Regions from separate parts of the Homo sapiens genome. Here region 1 is linked to region 2. The links come from fine-mapping of genetic effects on gene expression. A gene starts in region 2. The other region holds a variant in brackets. All regions are shown on one strand. Distances are between the middles of the regions. Region 1 overlaps LINC00944 (long intergenic non-protein coding RNA 944). Region 2 holds the start of LINC00944 (long intergenic non-protein coding RNA 944).

The links.
Region 1: its variant is fine-mapped to the expression of LINC00944 in whole blood (TOPMed, PIP above 0.99).

Annotation. Positions count from the first base shown.
Region 1 is chr12:126,746,101-126,750,500 of GRCh38, reverse strand. LINC00944 (long intergenic non-protein coding RNA 944) reads left to right here. Exons shown (of 5, transcript NR_033878.1): 2 at 2,374-2,570; 3 at 4,169-4,240. LINC00943 (long intergenic non-protein coding RNA 943) reads right to left here. Exons shown (of 4, transcript NR_038256.1): 4 at 4,245-4,400. Among named protein-coding and RNA genes, the nearest start is that of LINC00943, 11 kb to the right of the region's middle. The variant C/T (reference allele first, on the strand shown) is at 2,358.
Region 2 is chr12:126,769,757-126,774,156 of GRCh38, reverse strand. LINC00944 (long intergenic non-protein coding RNA 944) reads left to right here and starts at 1,895. Exons shown (of 5, transcript NR_033878.1): 1 at 1,895-2,078. RefSeq lists enhancers at 1,567-1,646, 1,122-2,321.

The DNA of each region.
Region 1 (4,400 bases), 24 kb after region 2:
TGATAAATATGAACAACTACCAGAATCAAGATGTGAAGCAATATAGATGCACAAAACTAATCAAAAGAAAATTCTAGAGTGGGAAATTAAGAAACAGGCATTATCTTTGCTCTGCAGGTAAATTCACTCTGATTGCCTTTCTGGTAACTGTATCTTCTTTCCCGCTGAAGAACCATCCCTCTCCGACTCTCAGTTCTGCCCGTGTGGAACCCAACCTCTGCTAACAGAGGAAACTTAGACAATAACAGCTAAGCCAAGCAGTGTGTTCCTGCCTCTCTCCACAGTGACTGGCTCAGGCTTGGGCGTGGAGAGCTAAGGGAGAGCCAGGGAGAGCTAAGGAGCACTGACTGGGGAGAGCTAAGGAGCGCTGGGGAGACTCCCTTGGGTCATCTACAGATGAGATTCTCACCCTTTTGCGTGGAAGCTGACATCCAGAGGTTTTGAAGTCTGGGCTGGTGCATCTGTCTTTCACTGATTCATCCATTATCTTTTTTTTTTTTTTTTTTTTTTTTTTTTTGAGACCGAGTCTCACTCTGTCACCAGGCTGGAGTACAGTGGCATGATCTTGGCTCACCACAACCTCCGCTTCCCGGGTTCAAGCAATTCTCCTGCCTCAGCCTCCTGAGTAGCTGGGACTGCAGGTGCCCACCACCATGCCTGGCTAATTTTTTATATATTTTTTTTGTAGAGACGGGGTTTCACTGTGTTGGCGAGGCTGGTCTCAAACTCCTGACCTCAAGTGATCCTCCCGTCTCAGCCTCCCAAAGTGCTGGGATTACAGGTGTGAGCCACCATGCCTGGCCTCATTATCCTTTTTACATATAAAAGAAAGTCTCTCTGAGAAGCCAAGAATACTCCTGGAGCAAGTAAAATGAGAAAGTTACCTGAAAGAAACGTACTTCAGACAGAGAGAAGACCCAGGGCAGAGATCCTGCTGCAGACACAGCCTTGGAGTATGGGGAAATAGGAGAGTAGGGAGCTAGAGTGGGGTGAACAGAGTAAATGATGGTAGGAGGCAAAGGAAAAGCCTATTTTTGAATGTCAACAGCATGGCATAAAAAAGAAGAGAGAGCAGGGGGAAGTCAAAGGAGTTTGGTGTGTTCTTGATAGCAAATGAAGGCTGAAGGCAGGCCTACACCTCAGGGCTATGTTATGACTTTGGGTGCTTCAGAAGCTTTTGCTTTGTGGATTCCTACTCTATTAAAATATTGTTATAGTGATTTTTCTTCTAATTTTAAAATAAATTAAAATTAAAATATTTTCATGAACCCTTTAATAGTACAGTGGGCCTCAGGCATGGTGTCTATTGAGACTACTGGATAAATTGGCCATGCTACCCCTGGCTTATTATTTATAGAAAGCATTAAATTACTTTTTTACTTAAGCCAGCTTTGGTATCGTTTTCTATTATTTGTAGTCAAAAATTGTTAACCAACACAAAACGTTTTCTTTTCCTTAAGCAACATTTAATAATGCACGCATCCTTCCCGCGAGAAACCATTAGTGTAAGCAAAACAGACGTTAATTACCAAATTTAAAACAAGCAAACTTTGGTGTTCTATTTCTTGAGTATTATCAGAGGAGGATCAAGTGCAGAGCTAGACAATAACTTTAGAGAAGTAATCATGGCATGCAGCTGTGCTTCTATTTTAATAGATCTGCTTCTCCTACATAACCTGCCATCAGTGGGTGACAGGCTGGATATCATTCCCCAACAGTGGGGAGGAGTTAGGCAGTGTCTTCACCCCCACACCCCATCCTCAATTCATTTTATGGCATTTAGCTGTTGTCAAGTTATGCTATTATAGAACAAATTATAGAACAACTGGCCCACTGTGGGCCTGAGCCTGGCATCTTTATACCATTAATACCTGCTCAAACAAGCATGTGCAGGTGTAACACTAAAAATAGCACAATAAAAGTGTTTCTAGCTGGACAGGAGAAAGCCCAGACTCCCAACACAGTCACTGTTACTAATAGCTAAGCTGGACATTTTTCAGTACTTGATGCTTTTCAAAGCATTTCGATGTGCATTATCTCCTGTGATCCTCAGAGACCACCCCCGTGCCCTCCACAGAAGCTATAATTCTCATTTTATCAAATAGGAAAATAAAGCTCCAACATTCAAGGAACTTGTCCATGATGTCTATGTCACAGGGTGGGGTCTCCAATACTGATCTTGAGTTCCGATTCGAATGTCCCTGGGCCATCTCCATCCCCTTCGTAGCTTTGGGAGGAGTGAGAGGCTCTCCTGTGTTTAAATCTTGAGAATCAATGATATTCTCTTTGCCCAAGACCATCATGTGAGATCCCACATTTGAACCATAGAAATTTTGGAGACTCACATCCTAAAACCA[C/T]GTTTCTCTATCCCAGTTAATCCCGTCATGTATTGACCCGGAAACATCATCTCATTTGCCTATAAGACAGAGAGAGAGAATGATAGAAATGCTGGAAGAACGAGCCTTGGGGCGGTATCGCCCAGATCTGAATCCACACAGCAGCTGCTTCGGTCCCTGTAACTCAAGGCTTCCTCTTAATCCTCTGTCCTCCATCAACACCTGGCTGAGCAGGTACTTCACAAACATTAAAAATAGTATAATTTCTAGGATCTATTTGTTAACTTGATCTCATTGGTCTATTAAAGCATCACACTGAGTTTCATGTAAATCATCTGTAGTATCCAGAAAGATTAGAGAAGAAGCTTTTGAAACAACCTCCACTTAACCTGCTTGCAGGGGATCCCACACCCTCCATTCCCCTCCATGGCCAGCAGGGGGCGCTCGCTCTAGGTGCTGGCTCTCTCTCCAGCTGCCAGGGCATTTCTGCTCCCATCAGGGGTGCTTTAAGCTTAGTACCAGCCTCTGTTATGGCATTATTACACTGCCCTCCTTTAATCTATACTATATAAATCCGTGAGCAGATTGAGCCGCTTCTATGAAAAGGAGCATAAATGCTGTGGAAAGATTCTACAAAACAACATGACTAAAACCATTTCTGACAAATTAGGTGTGGACAACAGAACTCTAAAACACAACGGAAAATTAAGCTCTGGAACGGTCCCTTCCTCCAATTGATTCTGAAGTGTCTTTAAGTCATTTCCCCACATTCGAGAAAACACAACTGGATATTGCAGATGGCCCGTTAGGAAGGTTATGGTTTATGACTGAAAGAGATCACACCAGCCCTGCAGACTTCTGCAAATAAAAATCTTGGCTCCACACAGCAAAAGACTGGGAAAGGAATACTTATTTATTTATTTATTTTGAGACAGAGTTTCGCTCTTGTTGCCCAGGCTGGAGTGCAATGGCGCGATCTCGGCTCACCACAACCTCTGCCTCCTGGGTTCAAGCAGTTCTCCTGCCTCAGCCTCCCGAGTAGCTGGGATTACAGGCATGCACCACCACACCCTGCTAATTTTGTATTTTTAGTAGAGACGGAGTTTCTCCATGTTGGTCAGGCTGGTCTCTAACTCCCGACCTCAGGTTATCTGCTCACATCGGCCTCCCAAAGTGCTGGGATTACAGGCGTCAGCCACCGCTCCCAGCCCATACTTTTAAATAAAAGAGTAATTATATAGAGATCACTGTTTAAACAATTTCTTAATCTGTATCTTTTTTATGGAGCCAACTCATAAAGTCACTTTTTTATGAAGCCTTGTCCTAGAGGGCTGCCTCTGCAGTGCTAGGTGGGTCTGCAGAGCTCAGCTTCCCTCTGCTGCAGATGAGTGTTGCATCCTTGGACAAATCATTTCTGCTCTGAACCTTCATTTTGCCTTCTGCATATGAGGTGTTTGATGAAAACAATTTCTGAGATTCCTTCATTTCTGATATGCTAGGATTCCACAAGCAAACCAATCTATGGGTGTGCACTTGGAGAGAGTTCTGTAGAGACGAAAAAGTTTTACCCTATGACAGAAGGACAAAATTCAGTAAAGAGTAGGGCTCCCATAATATAAGAAACCACTGCCAGCCCATGAGAACATTTTAGAGGGGAATGTCAAAAACATATTACCATATAAAATGTTAATATATATTAATATGTGAAAGTAATTAACAAAATGAGGAAGAACTCTCTTTTAAACTTTCTGATTAATTTCAGAAGGAAGTCTCAATTGAGGGGACTATGTCTTTGACCCTTTTGAACACTTGTCCGTCTCCCCTTTAATCAGGAACAACTATGACCTAGGACCAGGGCCTTCAGGAATCTTCACCCCTAACTTGAACTTCATAACACTGGAGAGGTAATTTTGACATGATTATTATTGTTATGCTTTATTTAAAGCCAGAAAGTTTAATTTTTTCATTTACAGAAGTGATATCAAGTTTCTGTTTTAGGTAAATTCATGTAAATAAGCATATGAGTTGATTTAAGGGAAGATATTGATTGAACAATATTTCTCA
Region 2 (4,400 bases):
CTGTACTTACAATCCCCGGAGGCAGAGGAGTAGACACACAATTACATGGCAGGGGCTTAGTTCATGATTAGGATGGCAAAGATCAGGCCCGGGATGGGCTGGCTGTATAACGCTAAATCAAAGAGGGCTCAGATTTATGAAACCAATAAATAAATGAGGCCCCAGACATCTGTCTGGAGTTGCTTGGGGAAATTCATTGATTTCAGAAAAAGGTATATATTAATAGTTTAAAAACATAAGAATAAAAATCACAGAGTTCATATCTTCAGCCTGAATATTTCTTCCTACTTCAAGATTCCTCCATCCAACTACCAATACCTGTCTCCAGTTAGATATCTACTATGCATCTTTAAATTAATATGTCTGAAACTAAACTCCTGTGTGCCACCACCACAATCTGCATGAACGAACAGATGAATGAATGAATGAATGAATGAATGAATGAATGAATGACTTACCATGACCATCAGAATCAAGGCACCTTGGTATAATATCTCTTTCCTTCCTTACAGCTGAAAATTTAGCTCTTGTCTTTGAAGATTCACTTCTGCCTCTCTCTAGCCCTGAATTGGTCTCTCTAGCAACATGTGTCTCCCCTCTGAATTCCTGTATGGATTTCAGACTAATGGCAGCCAAACCAGTGCCTGCACCCTTCCAGATTGTTTCTTCTAATTTAGTCCTCTGCTGGTGGTCTCCATGCACTCTCCTTTGCATATTCATCTGCAGGTCATCTTCACACATTCTTATCAGCCTAGGAGTCTTCTGTGCAGTGGTCTCTTCCTGCCACATCTCCCCTCTCCCCAGGAGATTAGAATGGCAAAGCCACACTCTATGGGATCTCAAGAACCCAAGTGTGAGATTTGCTTTCAGTATTTAGCAGAATTGGTGTTTCTGGGGCGGCAATCTCCTCCTGGAGATGTGTTAATCATTTACAGAATAGCCTGGACTAGTGTATGGGCCCTGCCCTTAGAGCCAATGCCACATTTATTTTTATTTTGCGAGATCTGCACTGACATGAAAACCGAAAATTCTATTGACGTTTCCTGTTCAACCTAAAAGCTAAATCCAGTTCATCACTGAAATCCCACAATGCCCTGAGACAAATAGTGCTTTAAAATATGTGGTGATTTTTAGGTCAGGTGCGGTGTAATCCCACACCTGTAATCCCAGCACTTTGGGAGGCCGAGGCGGGTGGATCACGAGGTCAGGAGGTTGAGATCAGCCTGATCAATATGGTGAAACCCCATCTCTACTAAAAATACAAACATTAGCCAGCGCCTGTAATCCCAGCTACTCAGGAGGCTGAGGCAGAAGAATGGCACGAACCCGGGAGGCGGAGGCTGCAATGAGCCAAGGTCGCGCCATTGCATTCCAACCTGGGCAACAGAACGAGACTCCGTCTCTAAGAAAAAAAAAAAAAAAAAGTGGTGATTTTTTTAAAAAGGAGTGGTTCATTCAGTTAAATGGGAAGAGTTGTAATGAGGGACTAAGTGGCTAAGTTGGCTGGACTTCCTGGGTCAATAGGGACTTCCCTAAGGGGACTTTCCCCTAAGCCAAAATGAGTCATAGCTGAAAGCTAAGGGATGGAAACTTCAACCAATCAAAGGGGACTTTCCCCTAAGACAAACTGACTCATAGCTGCAAGCTAAGTGGTTGAAACTTGAACCAGTCATATAGGGAGTTTAAGCTCTAGCTTCAGCCTGATGTTTTTAACCAACTAGGCCCGCCAACCCACAAGCAGATAGAAAATAAGCTGATTCTATAGGACAGAAAAAGGAAGAGGGCAGGGGTCATAAGGGGATGTAAGCATAAGATACCCAAGCCAGAAACAGCAACCCTTCCAGGTCCCCTTCCCCCACGTGGAAGCTTTCCTTTCACTTTCGCTTTAATAAATCTTGCCGCAGCACACTCTCTAATCGAGCTGTAACACTCGCCACTGCCGTCCACGGCTTCATTCCTTGAAGCCGTGAGACCACGAACCCTTCGATTGAGAAGAACCTTCGGTCGGAAGAAGACTTCTCGTCTCAGTAACAATAACAAGAAAAACAGCCTAGACTAGACGCACATCAGGAAGACAGGTAGTAACAAAATATTTTGTTGTTTGTACTTTTAGTGTTGTCTCTAAGACAGCTTTGCCTAACCCAGGCAACAAAAATTTAATCCTATACTTTCATCTAAGAGTATTACAATTTTAACTCTTTAATTGAGGTCTGTGGATCATTTGGAGTTAATTTTTGTGTGTGGTGTAAGGAAGGGATCCAAAACATACTTGTCAGCAGCAGTTGTGGAAAAGACTATTTTTCCTATTTTTTTCCTCATTCAACTGTCTGGAATTTTTGTTGAATATCAATTGACTATAAATGTAACGGTACGTTTTACGGCTCTCAAGTCTATTCCACTGGTCTGTGTGTCATTTTTTTATACCAATACCACACTCTTTAATTATTGTGCCCGGGTAATGTCTGACATTGGAAAGTGTGAGTCCTCTAAATGTGTTATTTTTCTCAACTGTTTTGGATGTTCTAAGTCCCCTGTGTTTCAATATGAATTTTATGATAGGCTTCTCAATTTATACAACAAATCCAGCCAGAATTTTGATAGGGACCACATTGAATCTATAGATCAATTTGAGGAGTACTGCCATCTGAACAATATTGTCTTCCAATCCACAAACATGAATTTTTTTCCATTTATTTAAATCTTCTTTAATTCTTTTCAACAATGTTTTCTAGTGCTACATGCATAGGTTTTGCACTTCCTTTTAAGAATTTATTCCTAAATATCATATTATTTCTGAGTGCTATTATAAATATAATTACATATTTTCTTAAAATCATTTTTGGATTGCTTACTTTTAGCATATAGAATTTCAATTTATTTTTGTATATTGATCTTGTATCTTGAAACTTTGTCCAACTAATTATTAGTTTTAATAGGTTTTAAGTGGATTTCTTAAGATGTTCCATACACAAGGTCATATCATGTTTGAATATAAATAGACTTACTTCTTTATTTCCAAACTGGATGCTATTTATTTATTTTTCTGGCCTAATTATCTTGGATAATTTCAGGAAAATTTTGAATAGAAGTTATAAGAGTAGACATTCATGTCTTATTCCTGATCTTAAGAGAAAATAACTCAGTCTTTTACTATTAACTATAATGACAGCTGTGGAGTTTTTTGTAGATGTCCTTTACCTTCTATTTCCAATTTATTGAGTGGTTTTTTAAAAATGTATATGAAAAGGTGTTGGATTTTGTTAAATGCTTTTTCTGGGTATACTGAGATGGTTATGTGGTTTTTGTTATTTATTCTAATAATGTGGTATTTAGATGGGGGTCTTTAACTGCTGGCTGAAGACTCTCCAAAGCTTGTTTTCCTTCTTCCAGAGTGATCTATAGTATTCAATACAGTGGTTTTCATTTGTCCTGTGCATCTGATCATAATGAACAGAACCTCTCTACTGATCACTGAAGAACCTATAGCATGAGTGAGAAATAAACCTTATTGTTTCAAACCACTGAGGTTCTGAGGTTGTTTGTTAGGTAGGTGCCTTTAAAATATGTCCACAAATTTTTCTTTAACAAACCCTCCCTTATCATGTTAAGTCTATTTCCCCTCTCAGTGAGTGAGAGTCCAAATGAGTTACTCACAGAAGTAATTTACAAACAGAAGTAATAATATATGGTGATATGGTTTGGCTGTGTTCCCACCCAAATCTCATCTTGAATTCCCATGTGTTGTGGGAGAGATGCAGTGGGAGATAATTGAATCATGGGGGGAAATTTTTCCCATGCTGTTCTCCTGATAGTGAGTAAGTGTCATGAGATCTGACCGTTTTATAAAGAGGAGTTTCCCTGAAGAAGCTCTCTTTCTCTTTGCCTGCTGCCATGCACGTAAGACGTGACTTGCTCCTCCTTGCCTTCTGCCATGATTGTGAGGCTTCCCCAGCCATGTGGAAATGTAAGTCCAATTAAACTTCTCTCTTTTGTAAATTAGCTGGTCTCAGGTATGTCTTTATTAGCAGTATGAAAACAAACTACTACATATGGCTTTTGGGCTAAGTCATGAAAATAAAAGGCATTGTTCTCTCTCATCACTTACTCTAGGAAAATCTGGCCGTATTTCAGCAAGACACTCAAACCCATGTAGCCAAAACAAAACAAACAACAACAACAACAACAACAAATGCATACTCCTATCAAAAGCCAGTGAAGAACTGAACCCTCCTGCCAAATGCCATGTGCAAAATCAGCTAGGAAGTGAACTCATCATTGATACTATTGAATAAGCATCCCAGACTTAGTAAGGTTGTTTTTGTCCTGGTAGAGATACAAATTACTTCTATTTGATGGAACAGATAACACCCCCCAAAATATGTCATATTGAATATAAGCCA